Homo sapiens: one gene and its partner. The protein of the gene in region 1 interacts with the protein of each later gene in a pairwise test. Each region holds a gene or a part of one and is shown in the gene's direction. Other genes may lie near its edges.

Region 1 (8,658 bases):
CATTGTTTGTTTCTTCTCTCACTGCAATCAAAGCTCTATGAAGACAGAATCTCATTAGCACATACCAGACTCTCAATAAATATTTTTTGAGTGAATGAATGCATTATGCCAAGTTGTGAGGAAGCAAACAAATACAATCTTTTCCCAGCGCTTAAGCAGCTTATCTGAAAAACAGATTCATTTCAATGTCATGTGACATATTCTTCGGTAGAGATATTCCTGAAAATTTCAGTAGGAAGGGGAGCATTTAAAGAAGTTAGCTTATATGACGATCTCCCTCAGACGTAATTTGAAAACCATGGAATTAAAAGATCTACAAATCTATTTTCTTTCATATCTATATAATATATGTGTAAGTTCAGTGTACAAGATCATAGTAAAATAGGTAGGTTTGTGCAAAAATTTAACCTTAAGGTTTAGACCGTAAATAATGCTTTAGTATAAAGATTTATAATCAGATTAATCTGTACTTTTCTGTTGTTTATTCAGTAATCTGTAATATGTGGTGTATCCTATAAATAAATCACCATGTTTTCATTGGTATTTAAAGATACCAATAATCTTTAATATACAATTTTTTTTCTCTGAACAGAGCATGTGACCATCTGCGTTGTATAGCCTGTGATTTCTTGGTAGTCAGCTATGATGACTATATGTGGGACAAATCGTGTGATTATCTGTTTTTCAGGTATGTTGCTAAAGAACTTCACTCTGAAAAAAGTACCAAGTAGTTTATATTTCCTATTTTGATATATTCTCTCTGGGTGGATTCAGCCAGATCTTGTGGGCTTCACCTCTTCAGTATAGTCATGTGCTGCGTTATGATGCTTCAGTCAACGATGGACTGCATATATATATATACATGGTGGTTCCATAAGATTATGACGGAGTTGAAAAATTCCTATCACCTAGTGACATCATAGCCTTTGTAATATTATACTGCAATGCATTGCACATGTTTGTGGTGATGCTGGTATAAACAGTAACATGCTGTAGAGGTTTGTAGCCTTGGAACAGTAGCCTATACCATATAGCCTAGGTGTGTGGTAGGCTATACCATCTAGGTTTGTATAAATTCACTCTTTGATATTCCCACAATGATGGAATTGCCTAACAAAGCATAAGCAATGCATGACTGTGTTTCTGTCATCCATCTCCTTCTCTCCATCTGCCTGCTGTCAGCCTAGATAAGGACATGTTACTTCTGGACAAGAATACAGAAGTAACCTCCTCACTGGTTTTTCTGGCTACAATCTCTTCTCTCAGACCATCCTTCCCTTGTTCAGAATTAAAGCATAGCTCAGAGTATACCGTCCTCCTGCTCAACACCCTTCCACTTACAGAATAATGTCCAAATTCCTTAGCATGGCATTCATGACCCTCCATAATCCAGCTCCCATCCATCCATCATCCAGCTTTGTCTTCCCACAATGTATATTTCACCTTTGCAAGATTTTAGCTACATCAGAGTACTCAAGGCTCCCATTCCCTCTGACTTTGTACAACCTCTTTACCTCTTGGGATGCCTTCCCACCATTTTATCTACCTAAACCCTACCTGTCCTTCAGAGTATAATTCATCACATGTCTTCCATGATTCTTTCACCACTCTCTCAACTGGAAGAAAACTCTTCCCTTCCTGTGTATTCACGGTGCTTTGGACCTATTATATACTGTAATATAAAACTGAAGCTCTTAGGTTGGTGTATGACTACCTCCCTCCTTGTGGCTGAGATAATGTCTTGCTCATATTTATATAATTTGTACATTCTTATACACTTACAGAATACCTACTATCTTTAAGGTGTTACAAGTTATAAAAATATATTTGAACTTTACATTGACATTTTCAAATAAAAATTTAAAGCTAAAAATTAATACAGTGTAATATTGCAGCACTTTTCAATAGCATAAAGAAAAGGGTAAGAGACTTTCCCCTACGCCTTTTTTGGCAGCCATTCTTGGGTAAATCTATGAGTATACCCTAATTTAATAGTTTTTAAACTTTTTCACATCAAGAACCACTTTGCAAATCTTATGAAAGCTTTGAATGCCCCTCATACACATACAATTCAAATATAAAAATACATGGAAAAATTATAACTTGAAAAATTTTACAGTTTCCAACCCAAATAAAGCCTAATGTACTCCCAAAATCTGAGGTTAGGAACCCATACTTTTAGGCTTAGCCCACTTTTTACCCCATAAGTGGAAAAGTTGGCTTTTAATTACAGGTTGACTTTCCCTTTTCTGACTTTTCTAAACCCTCTGCTATTTACTGTCTACTAGTTAATCTAATAAGTGGTTAATAATCCCCATATGTCACCAAGATGAAGCATGAATTTTTATAAAACTATCATAGGATAATAAAATGCATGTAACATCAAGGCAGTGGTGAACACAGGCATAAAGTAAACTATGGATAACCTAGTCGGTACTTGAGGAACTTGCAGCATCTCAGAGTTATCAAGAACACCAGTTGGTTTACCCTAGATCTGTGGCAGCCTGGTTTAAAAAATATATGTACTTTTAGATAAAACAGTGACAACTAGAGGATTTATTATACTATTAAAAATAAACAAGTAGTCATTATTTAAATCAGTAGAAAATACTGTCTCAGTTCTCAAGACACTTAGGAATATGTTTGGGAGATAAGAGAATGGAACAGCTAAAGAATAAGGCGGTCTCCACCATTAGGATATAAATCACTGATAGATTTATTTTGTACAATATATTGGTGTTTACCAGTAGACATTATTCAGCACCTAGTCTATGACACTCTTAGATACTGGGCTCATAAGATGAGAGGAACCCAGGGGAAGGGAGACATGGGTGGGGACAAGCATGTGAGCAGCAAGGTCATAGAGACAATAGGGTCAAGAGCACTGATGGGAGGTGAGCCTTGGATAGGAAAAGGAAGACCTCTGTGACTGAGAGGAAGCCAGCAAGGTACTGATGTGTTCAGGGTGAGCTTGCCAGGAAATTGAAGGCTTTCATACCTGGCGACCTGGTTTTGAGAATGAAGATGTGATCTGCTGAAAATAAGGGAGTGGAGGAGGATGTGGAATAATCACTGAGGAAACCAGAAGTGGACAGTGACCAAAGACAAGTTAAATGTTACACAGTGGAATGCTGTGCAGTTGTTTTATTGTCCTATTTTACAGATGAGAGAAATAAATGTATCCTATCTTTGAGAAGTTTTAGAACTTTTTTTTTTTTTCTGAGCCAATCTTGCAAACCCTGTTACCCAGGCTAGAGTGCAGGACTGCAGTTTCAGCTCACTGCAACCTCCACTTCCCAGATTGAAAGGATCCTTCGGCCTCAGCCTCTCGAGCAGCTAGGAATACAGGTGCGCACTACCACATCCAGCTAATTTTGTAGAGATGGGGTCTCACCATGTTGCCCATGCTGGTCTCGAACTCCTGAGCTCAAGTGGTCCACCCACCTTGGCTCCCCAAAGTGCAGGGATTACAGGCATGACCCACCACACCCAGACAAGTTTTAGAACATTGTAAAAGAAGTGTCAGCTATACTTACTGACCACCTTGCCACAACAGCTGAAGAAAATGCTTTTATTTTTCTATTAAATCGTGTTTTCTTTAAGAATGGAATGATTTTTCCCTAAGCTTTTAAGATACGTGCATTTTAAAAACCATTTCAAATGTCATAATTAGATCCCTGCCTATTCATGATTCCTAATCCTAAAATCGCTAAGGATTCAGTCAAGTATCAAATGTTAAGTTTTCAAAATATTTTGCAGATCAAATAAAGGACATTTTTCCTCAACAACTTAGTTTTGGCGGGGTTTTTTTCTTTCTGTTAAAATTTAGATTATTCATTTCTTCCCTTAGCTAAGTCGTTTAGCTAGTCAGTCTGTTTCCTGAAGTCAGACAGTTGGCTTGGAAAATCTGTCAGGTTTTGTGAGGTTCTAACCTTCTAAATTGTGCCTGAATTTCGTACAGTTTAATACTGAATATGGTGCCCATTGACCACCAGAGGGCACTTTGTAGCCTGCCTTCTGTTGCAGTGATATCCACAAGCAATGGTTAGGTACCGTATCTCTTTTTCTGGTATTCATACTGTATTTCGTCCTTTCACTTTGTATTTTTTCATCTTTTTTAAAAATTTTTTCTACTTTTCTTTGCCATGGAATGTTTATATGAACTCATTACATGGATTATCATGAAATCATAATTGATGTTTTTATTAATTAAACTTCTGTAGTCTTTTTTATAATAGTATGAAATCCAGTGTTTATCATTTTTACGATGGCCCTACTTGTTGATTTAATTATTTCAACATTATTAATATTTATTTCAGGATAGACATTTTTGTTGCTGATAGTATGAATAAACAGATCATTGAAGCTAATGAAAATTTTCTATAGTTAATTCATCAGAAACCTATGATCTTTATGCCTCTAATGTTCTCTCAACTTGCCATATTACAGGCTTTTAAAATATGGCATAGGTGAGTATCTGAGGTAGGAAATGAACCACCATCCTTTCCACCCTATTTTCATATTATTTCATCTCTGATAGGGCGTTTGTAATTCTTCAGCCTTTAGGTTATTGTGTTCTTCAACATTCAATAAACTGGCCTAGAGGATTGCCATAAAAAGTACAGATTATCAAAGAAATACCATCAGAAAGAGAACACTGAAGCATATCTTCTAGTGTTAGTGTGAGGGGATCTAGGTTGTTTAGTGTTCAGATACGGGGAAGATAAGAAAATAGGCTGGGCACCATGGTTCATGCCTGCAATCTCAGCACTTTGGGAGGCTGAGGTGGATGGATCACTTGAGCCCAGGAGTTTGAGATCAACCTGGACAACATACTGAGACCTCATCTCTACAAAAAAAAATTTTTTAAGCCGGGCATAGTGGCACATGCCTGTGGTCTCAGCTACTTGGAAGGCTGAGGGGAAGCCTGGGAGGTCAAGGCTGCAGTGAGCCATGATTGTGCCACCGCAATCCAGCCTGAGTAACAATGAGACTCCTAAAAACAAAAAAAGAAAAGAAAAGAAAGCAATGACCTTTTTTTTTTTTTTTAATCATTAAGCACTGAACAAAGCCACTATGCTAAAACTTTCCTGTTTTACTAATAGGAACAACATGCCAGAATTTCACAAATTAAAAGCAAAGTTGATAAAGAAGAAAGGAACACGGGCATATGCCTGCCAGTGTAGCTGGAGAACTATTGAAGAAGTGACTGACCTTCAGACAGATCATCAGCTTCGCTGGGTTTGTGGTAAACATTAAGAATGCAGACTGCACATTCGGACAGATGCATCCATGAGAGTGGTCTCCATGAATCATCATCATGTTTAGACAATAGTCCCTAGCAATACCATTCCCTGTGGGAAAAGGCAGTGAATTTTATTGATACAACTACATACATTTTTGAAGACCAAATGGACTAAGGAAGATCATGTATTATAACACTTTGGAATTATTCCTGATACATGGATGTTTCACTTAGTAACAGGCATCTACATTCTTTACTAATCTGTCTTCTGTTTAATAGAGGTTTGATTATGGAGTTCCATACAAATATCTAGTTTTTCATTAGCAACTGCAATATTGATTGCTAATACGTTTAGCAAATCATTCCCCAACTTGTAGCAGTTAAAGTGGATAAAGCCGGCCAGGGCAAAGAGATCATTTAGGGGTGTCTACAACACTTCTTCCAGTCAGATCTTTTGTTGCCAAAGATCATAATTTGGACATGGCAGAAACCAGGTGATCAGTGGCTGACTGAAGGGTGTTCAGAAGTAGTTACAGGTATTTTGCAAAAACACTGCCTCATAGCTGATCTTACCTCATCAACTCAAAGCAATGTTATGCACAATATTAAATACATGTTACCAGTTTTAGCTTATTTTTCCCTCTTTTGTTCATTTAACTATCAAAAGTTATTTTCTATTTTGATTACCCAATAATATATAAAAAGAGTTTGATGCACCCAAAATCACAAAAATCCTAATACATACAGGTTATTGTTGGATTTTCCAAGTACTTTCTATCCTTTAATGCCTAAAACTCCATCAAGGGAAGTAAACAGCAAGTAATATAATTTTTCAGGCAGCCTGTGGACTTCTCTGGTAGGATCAGGTTGACATATCGTTTATTAGGTGAGTAAGTGAAAAGACAAGTAAAGCATAACTGAACCAACAGGTAACCTGTTGGGCTCCTTCCTGACATCACTGAGATCTGAGGAGCCCTACAATAGCAGCACATTCAGGAAATCAGGTCCCTCAAAATTTCTAGCTCCCAACCCCATTGAGAGATTTTGGGAGCTTTCCAATCTGCCACAAACTCCCTGCTACATATGTACTATATAGTTCAAATGTGTGATACAGAGCACCCTGAAAGGGAATAATTGAAACAAAGTTATAATCTTCTTAGTCTTATGCTAAATTTATTCCAGCCACCCTACTGAAGGGAGGAAGATCTGATCATTAGAATCCTTTTCCTAGCCATGACACATTTACATACTTGTAAAATTTATTGTAGTAAGTCTAGCATTGCAACAGAATAGATCTTATAATGGCCAATCCTCACACTTTTGTATTAAGGATATTATGACAGACTAAGCATGGTAGCTCACGCCTGTAATCCCAGCACTTTGGGAGGCTGAGGCAGGCAGATCAGCTGAGGTCAGGAGTTCAAGACCAGCCTGGCCAACATGATAAAACACCATCTCTACTAAAAATACAAAAATTAGCTGGGCGCGGTGGTGCATGCCTGTAATCCCAACTACTCGGGAGGCCGAGGCAGGAAAATTTATTGAACCTGGGAGGCAGAGGTTGTAGTGAGCCAAGGTCGCGCCACTGCGCTCCAGCCTGGACAACACAGTGAGACTCTGTCTCAAAAAAAAAAAAAAGACATTATGACAGATTTTATCTTTTAATAAAAATGTATTATATCCCTAAAGTTATATCTATATGTAATTGAGTCAGAAACCTAGGGGGATGTCGATTGAAGTCGACTGCTGGAAAAAAATAGCAGAGCAACAAGATCCACACATTTAGAACCTCATAGAATTTGACACATTATTCATAATGGTGCAATTCTTTCTTTTTTATTCCAGTAAGCAAATTTACTAAATCACTAATTTGAAAAAAAAAATTTTTTTTTTGAGATGGAGTGTCACTCTGTTGCCGGGCTGGAGTGCAGTGGCACGATCTCTGCTCACTGCAACCTCCGCCTCGCAGCTTCAAGTGATTGTCCTGCCTCAGCCTCCCCAGTAGCTGGGATTACAGGCACACACCACCACGCCCAGCTAATTTTTGTATTTTTAATAGAGACAGGGTTTCACCATGTTGGCCAGAATGATGTCGATCTCCTGAACTCGTGATCCGCCCGCCTCAGCCTCCCAAAGTAGCCTACATTGCCTCTACTTTGAAGGGACAAAGTTGTCCTGGTTTTTTTTTCCCTTTTATTATTTCATTATAACTATCCTAAAACTTACATACATTGCCTATGTTTGGCATTCCATAACATAATAATTATAATAATCCCCCAATGTCAGAAATGTATGTGTGAGTTCCCATGTTTATTGGCAATTTATAAGCTTTTTAATATTGTACTATTTTAAACTAAAATGTAGAAAGAATATTATGTTTATATACAGTCAGATAAATTATTAACTGTTGTAATTTAAGCTGAAAATGAAACTATTTTAGTATCAGTATAGAAGAAAAGTATAGTTTCTAATCATCTATAATTTTAAAATGCAAAGCCTATAAAACTTTCAAGATGTTTTGCCTGTTTGTTTTTAAGATTTATAATAATTTTCTATCTTTAGCAAGTAGCTATTTTTAAGCCAGGTAACTTCTTTATTTGAACTGTATTATACTCTCAGACCCTCATCCTGCCTAGAAATGAATAAGTAATAAATAATTACTCTGTATTATTTACTTCTTTTATTTTATAGTAAAATATTCATTTGGATGGACATTAATTTGAAATCATTTTGATGTTTTTTTTTTTTGAGACAGAGTCTCTCTCTGTTGCCCAGACTAGAGTGCAGTGGTGCAATCATAGCTCACTGCTTCCTTGAACTCCTGAGCTAAAGCGATCCTCCCACCTCAGCCTCCCAAAGTGCTGGGATTACAGGTGTGAAGCACCATGCCCAGTCAAAAAAAATTTTTTTAATGTCAACAGAAAAGTTTCCAAGCATCCAGTTAAACAGATAATTTGTCTACACTGGGGAGGAGAAGTATGCCATAACTCTGATGTGTGTGTGTGTGTGTGTGTGTGTGTGTGTGTGTGTGTGTACATGCATGTGTAAAGAGAGTATGTGTGTGCATGCATGTGTAAAGTACCATGGGTATTCAAAGGAACAGGTCCAAGTTTAGGAAGAACAGGCCATGCTGACTTGGCGGTGTATACCTAGAACCTGTTCGTTGATGTCAGTAAACTTAGTACCTTTTTTTCTTAGGCCAGAGAATATGTCATCAGACTATGAATCTGAATTGCTTTCTCTCTTTTTCTTACTGATATTTAAGAATATGAAAGAAAAAGGTCTTTGTATCCAAAAGCATTGTGATGAAGCTTAGCCATGAATTTCAAATGCTGATATTTCTAATGTTTTAACAAAATCTCTATCAGCCAACCTAATGCTCCCAGTAATCAGCAATATCTCTTGTATAAAAT
Region 2 (6,957 bases), on another chromosome or scaffold:
TGTGAGCCACCACGCCCGGCCTGTATTTTTTTTTTTTTTTTTTTGGTAGAGAAAGGGTCTCACTATGTTGCCCAGGCTGGTCTCGAGCTCCTGGGCTGAAGTGAACCACCCACCTCGGCCTCCCAAAGTGCTGGGATTACAGGGTGTAATCCCACTGAGCCACCACTTAGGAAGCATAAGACACTAGCTTATGCTTTCTAATACATGAAATTAAGCCACGTTTATAAGTAAAATTATAGCTTAAAAAAATAAGTAGGTATTCATAAGATTGAGATTCAAGTGACAAAGGTTGTGAGTAAAGTCAGGCTTCCATGGCAAACACAGTATTCTACAATAAATATTTCCACAAATGTAGTTTTCTTTATCAGACATTTTTATTTTCACATTTACATTCAACAGTTCTTAGAATTGTTAAAAATAGCCCTTTCGGGCGGGGTGCGGTGGCTCACGCCTGTAATCCCAGCACTTTGGGAGGCCAAGATGGGCGGATCACTTGAGGTTGGGAGTTTGAGACCAGCCTGACCAACATGGTGAAACCCTGTCTTTACTAAAAAAAAAAAAAAAAAAAAAAAAAATTAACTGGCCGTGGTGGTGCACGCCTGTAATCCCAACTATTTGGGAGGCCGAGGCAGCAGAACTGCTTGAACCCAGGGGGCAGGGGGCAGAGGTTGCAGTGAGCCGAGATCGTGCCACTGCACTCCAGCCTGGGCAACAGGAGTGAAACTCCATCTCAAAAAAAAAAAAAAAAAAGCCCTTTCGATATTATAGGAAAGGTATTTGCCTTTTGTATTGAATAAACTAAGATAGAAACTCAATTTTATGATGGCAACATCAAAAAATACAGTTTAAACAGAATTTCATGGTAATTTACCCATAAACATTTGCTGGCCTTTTCCTGATTTAAGAAGTTGTAATTGCTACGTTAGTGCTGTGCCCTCTCAAAATATCAAAAGATTTTTCCAGTATTTTCAAGGTTCCTCATTATACTGATATTTTGGTTGCCTTGGCTTTGTTGTCTTTTCTAGCCAAGAATAAATTTGAAATAAGGGGCTGGCTTTTTGCTTCCATAGTGCTTATGGGATCCAGCTGGGGGCTGTTCTGATTCACGTTCACTGCACCCTTTTTCACCGAGTCTCCTCATTTTCTTTCTCTCCAGTGGCATGGTTGCTCTCTGATATTTGGCGTTGTAGATCATTTAAAACAACACTTGCTGACCGACCACACTAATCCCAACTTCCAGACTCTGAAATGTCGCTGGAAGAACTGCGATGCTTTTTTCACTGCTAGGAAAGGATCCAAACAGGTACATTAGTGGGACTTGAGGTTTGCCTGGGATTCAGTAGACTGCTCAGAGCAGGGGCTAGCAAACCTTTTTTATTATTGAGAATTGCCATATATAGGGAGGGCCTAGGGTTTTTTATTTTTATGATTCAGAGATTTGGGGGGTAGCTTAATGAAGTTGCAAATGAAGAATTAGGTCATTTTTGAGAAAGGGCCTAAAGAGAATGTTTTCAGATGTTTCAAATCCAGTAACTGAACCTGGAGATTTATTACAGTGCTCTTGTGCTGAGACAACAGCTCACCTTTAAGTACATGGTTTCACGTAAGTTAGCAAAGTGCTGGCTCCTAACTGCCTTTCCTGTCTGGATCCTAGGTGGAATGGACCCACATGGCTTTCCTTGGCTTTGACTTTCTCCTGTCTTACTATCGACTTCTCTCTCATGGGCCCTTTTCCCTTCATTCCTAGGATGCTGCAGGACATATTGAACGACATGCTGAAGATGACAGCAAAATTGATTCATGAAGTTTTTTGCCTCCCACGTTGGGAAGTCATTAGTTGAACTATTTTCACATTGGCCCCCCACACAGGCCACTCTCTTCCCTTTCTTGGTGAAGTAAGGAAGGAGAAAGTGGTTACTAGCCAGGCATACCCCTAGCATAAGTCTGGGCAGCTCTATGGGATGATAAATTACACTTTTAAGTTCTTGCTGGAGGTTTTAAATAGATTTAGACAAATGTTAAGGAACCATACTTCTCTGGGACAGCATGGCATATAGTGATATATGCTATTTGCGTTCTCCAGATGTTTATTGAAGATACAGATCCTAATTGGTTACCCAGTTTGACCCTAATCATATGTATATTTTATTGATTTCAGTTTGCAATTTTTAATTTATGTTCTTATGATGGTTTAAACCTATAGTCAGGCTTTTAAGTACAAGTTTGTTTAAGTGCCAGACTTTGAGGATCAGTTTTAATTTCTCCATTTGTAATAGCTGGGTATTTAAACTGGAAGCAAATAGTTTTCTTTCTTAACAATTATGTGCAGTGTGTGTCACTGTTTTCTTGCTTTATAGATAGAGCTGGCTTTAAGTGCTAAAGGACACAGTAGATTTTTGACAAACAGTGGCTGCTCTGCTGACTATCTTTTAGGAATTCAGGAAGCAAATCACATAGTGACAAGTCCTTACAGACACCACTTCTAGTAAATCTCTGTAAATGTGGATAGAAAGCTCAGTGTGAGGCAGTGCGTAGACCTAACGTCTACCTTTACATCTGCTGTTGAACCTGGGCACTACCTGTTACAGATCCTGTCAGGCTGTTGAACTGGAGGTGTACCTTTATCTTCCTTTCTAGTGTCTGACCCTGCAAGCCTAATGTTGGTTTGAACCCTTTTGGTTTGTTCAGTTGCCAGCCTCCATCTCTCCCACTGTATGGCCGTGCCTAGACCGATGGCAGCCATCGAATATTCCTCTGGGCTCACGGGGTGTTTTCCACCCCCCTGCAGCAACTAAGATGGTGGGGGAGAGGGGGTTAGAATAAAGCATCTGAATACAGTTTTCAGGACCTCAAGCAGACTTCCTAGAGACTTGTTTCTGAGACAGTTCTTTGCCTTCACTTCCCTGCTAGCTGGGAAAGAAGAGTGGAGCAGAGACTCTGCCTGGCCACTGAGAACAGCCAAATTCACAAACCCTCAGTGGGGCTTTGTTTTTGGATTTTCTCCGGACTCATCAGTAAACCTGTAGAAGTGTCGCTTTCCAGCCTTTTGTTTCTGGATCCTCAAAACTCAGAACGTGGCCGGGCGTGGTGGCTCACGCCTGTAATCCCAGCACTTTGGGAGGCTGAGGCAGGCAGATCACCTGAGGCTAGGAGTTGCAGACCAGCCTGGCCAACATGGCAAAACCCCGTCTCTACTAAAAATACAAAAAGCCGGGCGTGGTGGGCGCCTGTAATCCCAGCTGCTCAGGAGGCTGAGGCAGGAGAATCGCTTGAACCCGGGAGGCAGAGATTGCAGTAAGCTGAGATCGTGCCACTGCACTCCAGCCTGGTGACAGAGTGAGACTCCGTCTCAAAAAAAAAAAAAAAAACTCAGCTTCTTCAGAGAGATAAAATTGGGGGAGGAGCCCAGGGCCACATACCAAGCTTTGGGACATGGTGCCTCATGCTCTCTGGGATTGCAGACCATCCAGGTCTGTCTTCGCCCCTGTTAGTGCACATATATCCACTCACATGTCTTCCCTCAGGCTATCGGGCAGGGGGACTTCACCAGGGGGTTTATGGATAGGCTTCAAGAGGGTCTGTGAGCCCCCAGAAATTGTGTGTGAGACTGAGTATGTGTTCTTTTTTCCAGGAAAGGCTCCAGTGGTTCTTACTTGATCCAAAAAATGTCAAGAATTAATCTAGGAGGCCGGGCCTGGTGGCTCACACCTGTAATCCCAGCTCTTTGGGAGGCCGAGGCGGGTGGATCACTCAAGGTCAGGCATTTGAGACCAGCCTGGCCAACATAGTGAAACCCCGTCTCTATTAAAAATACAAAAATTAGCTGGGTGTGGTGGTATGTGCCTGTAGTCTCAGCTACTCAGGAGGCTGAGACAGGAGAATCACTTGAACCCTGGAGGTAGAAGTTGCAGTGAGCCAAGATCATACTACTGCACTCCAGCCTGGGCGACAAGAGTGAAACTCCACCTCAAAAAAAAAAAAAAAAGAGTTAATCTAGGAGATAATGAATGGCCTAGTACTAGATAATATATGGCCCCACAAGCTCTTGACTTCTGTCCTTGGGGAAAGCCATTTTGTTAACCACACTAGTGAGATTTACATGATGCTTAATGGAGAACAGAGAAGATCTTGTTGCAAAAGGTGTATTAAATATTTGTGCTGTTTCTGTATGAGATTGAGAAGCTTTTCCCACCTCTCACCCCTATTTCCTATAAGGATATCCAGAGAAGCCAAACTGTTCTGTGGGTTTGGGAATGGTCATTTCCCGGGAAAATGCATCTGGATCGATGACTAAACCTGGCCCTTTTCTCTGGGCTGTAGTGAAGCCGCATTTTCACGCTGGCTGGCAGTGTGCTGAGAGCCTCGAATGCTCTGCGGCGTAGTGCCCTTCTGCCCTGCCTGACGATGTATCGAAAAGATGAGAGTGAAGGAGACTTTGTGCAGCAGGAAACGGGTAGGTGAGGTGTTGGGCAGTTGTGGGAACTTCTGAGAGTATTACAGAGTGGTAGAATCGGTAAGAACTCTGATTTGGACTTCGCTTTGGTGGAACTGTGTGCCTATACCTGCCTGTGTGTGTGCAAGTGTGCAGGTTCCTTTGTATGTATGTGTACGTGTGGGAACCTGTGTTTGTCATATTTTTCTTCATTTCACAAAGGCTTTTTTTGAAGCAGTGGCAGTATGCCTTTGTTTCAAGAACACATGAAATTCTTTTAACACCAGATTAGTGTGTTACCCCAAATGAACGGTTCTAGCCCTCTATTAAGAAATAAAGGGACCATAAGCATTTTGGCTGCTTATGGCTGTGTGTTACTACTTACAAGAGTCTTGAAAATTATACAGAACTTTGCCTTCTTTTTTTAATGTCTTCCACAATGTTGTGACTGATTATAACCCTGTTTCCCCTCAGAGAAGAGCTATGGCTCAGGGATCTGTGTTGACTCTGGCATTTAGTGGCTTTGTGAAGGAAAGAAACCATTAAATGACCTGACAAAAACTGACTCATGTCTTTAAAGTAGTTGAAGCCACTTTTAGAATGTTACTCTCGGTTGCTTTTGTCTAATTCTAATGGCTTAAAGCCAAGAAAACCATAGTATAAATCTTTTTGTGTACCTATGCTAGTGTTTAAATGGCAGTTCGTTGTGATAAAGTATCAGTCACTTCAAGTTTTCTGTGAAAGTTTTTAATTAGGTTAAAAATAATTTTGGCATACGTCTCTACTCAGTTTATAAAGCAGTTCCACACCATGCAAACAAAACTCTAACAGCAAAGGTTATCTTGACCTGATGTTACTTGAATCTGAGAGAAAGTCATTACTTACTACTGCACTCCTGCTTTTGTGGGAAAAATTTTCTTCTTCCCCAGAAGAGTTAACAGTTGAGTGTTCAGCTCCTGACTTACCTTTAATTTAGAGGCAATATTATTACTGTTTAAGTGATTATTTGCTTAACACAGGTTTTATTTTGTCTTTTTGCTGGTAGATTATACAAGGGACAACTTTAGTGATGAGGCATGTGGATGATTTGGTGGGAGTAGGTATATACTTAGTGGAATGGTTTATTTTATGGAAGAGAATTCATTGGAGGTGAGATTGAAGTATATTGTGAAGTGGGATTTGAACAGCACATATGCTCTGGTTTGCTCAAATAACTGCAGTTTATGCTTACATCTAAATTTTGTTTCTGTTACCTAAACGGGAGCTTCTAGAATTACGAAGGCCATACCTGCCACATTTATAAAATAATGGTTTTATCCCTGCCCCCAAATCATCAGGTTCCTCGGGTTTAAGAGAAGTGGTCTAATAGACAGGAATAGAAGTTGTGGTGGAGGTGATTTGGGATAGACTAGGTTTCCTTATGCAAGTGGATATGAGCTCCTCATAGAAACCAGACCTACTGTATTAGACAGTAACCTCTAACCTCACCTCCAAGCCCAAGTATATGGCCCTGCTGGGTTACCTGGTGACTACATTTCCCAGATTCACTCTAAATTCAAGGTAGTGACCCAAATAAATTGGGAAAGGAGGGGGTCAAGGAGGAAAAGCTGTTGAAAATCTTTCTCCTATTTAAGAGAAATATATGCCCTAGAGCTGCTCCAGCACCCTTGGTTTCTGATTTTTTTAATATTGAATATGGATTAGAAGAATGAAATCAGATGACACCTGACTGCAAAAATGTTTATAAGCAAATAGCCTTCTTACATTTTGGTATAAAGCTGTGAACTTCGTAACTTTGTAAAGCAAGATATAAAGCAAATACAAGAGGAAAATAAAGTACTTTTACTAATTGACGGTTTACTTTCGTTACCTTGTCTGCATATTCACGGCCAGCCCTTTCCACGTTGGCTTAGCGAGGAAGAAGGAAACTGGGTGGAAAACACAGGATGCCTATAGATATGCCGCAGGCCATGGTCCAGAGAAGTTTAGCAAACAAACAGCTGCGTTCAGGGTTTTGTCCACGGTCATGCGACAGGTCAGTTAGTGAGCAGAGGAGCTAGGATAGCTCAATCTCCACTCCATTATTCAGGTAACCGGCCCCTCCCGTTGTACATGACCCATTTATTCTTGATGTCTTTTACAGCAACAACTATTCCTCTGCCTTCCTTTTATGTCTTGGAAAGTATCTGAGCCATTCTTATGCTCAAGAAATAGCAATAGGCATGATTACAAAATTCAAGATTTTGTTTTTGTGTGTGTTTTTCATTGTTCTCTTGTAGGTGATAGGTGAGTATATGATTGGAAGCCATTCAGTCATGCATGGCTGATATCTAAATGTGAGACAACAAAACACAAGGGGACCAGCCATACACATGCCTTTATTTAGATCAGCTTTTTTCAAAATGCAGCCAAACTTATGAGTTGGACAGCCCAAAGTAACCAGCCCTATTCCACTGAGTTAGTTTACCCCACAGCAGTAGAACCCAGTGCTGGTTTGGTTCCTGGCCCATGGTGGGACAGCGTGA

What was found. The genes of interacting proteins can lie anywhere in the genome.
Region 2: the proteins of CFAP418 (region 1) and ZNF106 interact in a two-hybrid assay, tested with the Homo sapiens proteins (one study listed by IntAct).

What each region holds. Positions count from the first base shown.
Region 1 is NC_000008.11:95,244,218-95,252,875, reverse strand, and holds the end of CFAP418 (cilia- and flagella-associated protein 418), read left to right. Parts: intron 1-592; coding exon 593-688; intron 689-5,105; coding exon 5,106-5,259; 3' UTR 5,260-7,963; downstream 7,964-8,658. UniProt on the Homo sapiens protein: May be involved in photoreceptor outer segment disk morphogenesis.
Region 2 is NC_000015.10:42,412,151-42,419,107, reverse strand, and holds the end of ZNF106 (zinc finger protein 106), read left to right. Parts: intron 1-1,156; coding exon 1,157-1,303; intron 1,304-1,654; coding exon of another isoform or gene 1,655-1,747; coding exon 1,748-1,804; 3' UTR 1,805-6,285; downstream 6,286-6,957. UniProt on the Homo sapiens protein: RNA-binding protein. Specifically binds to 5'-GGGGCC-3' sequence repeats in RNA. Essential for maintenance of peripheral motor neuron and skeletal muscle function.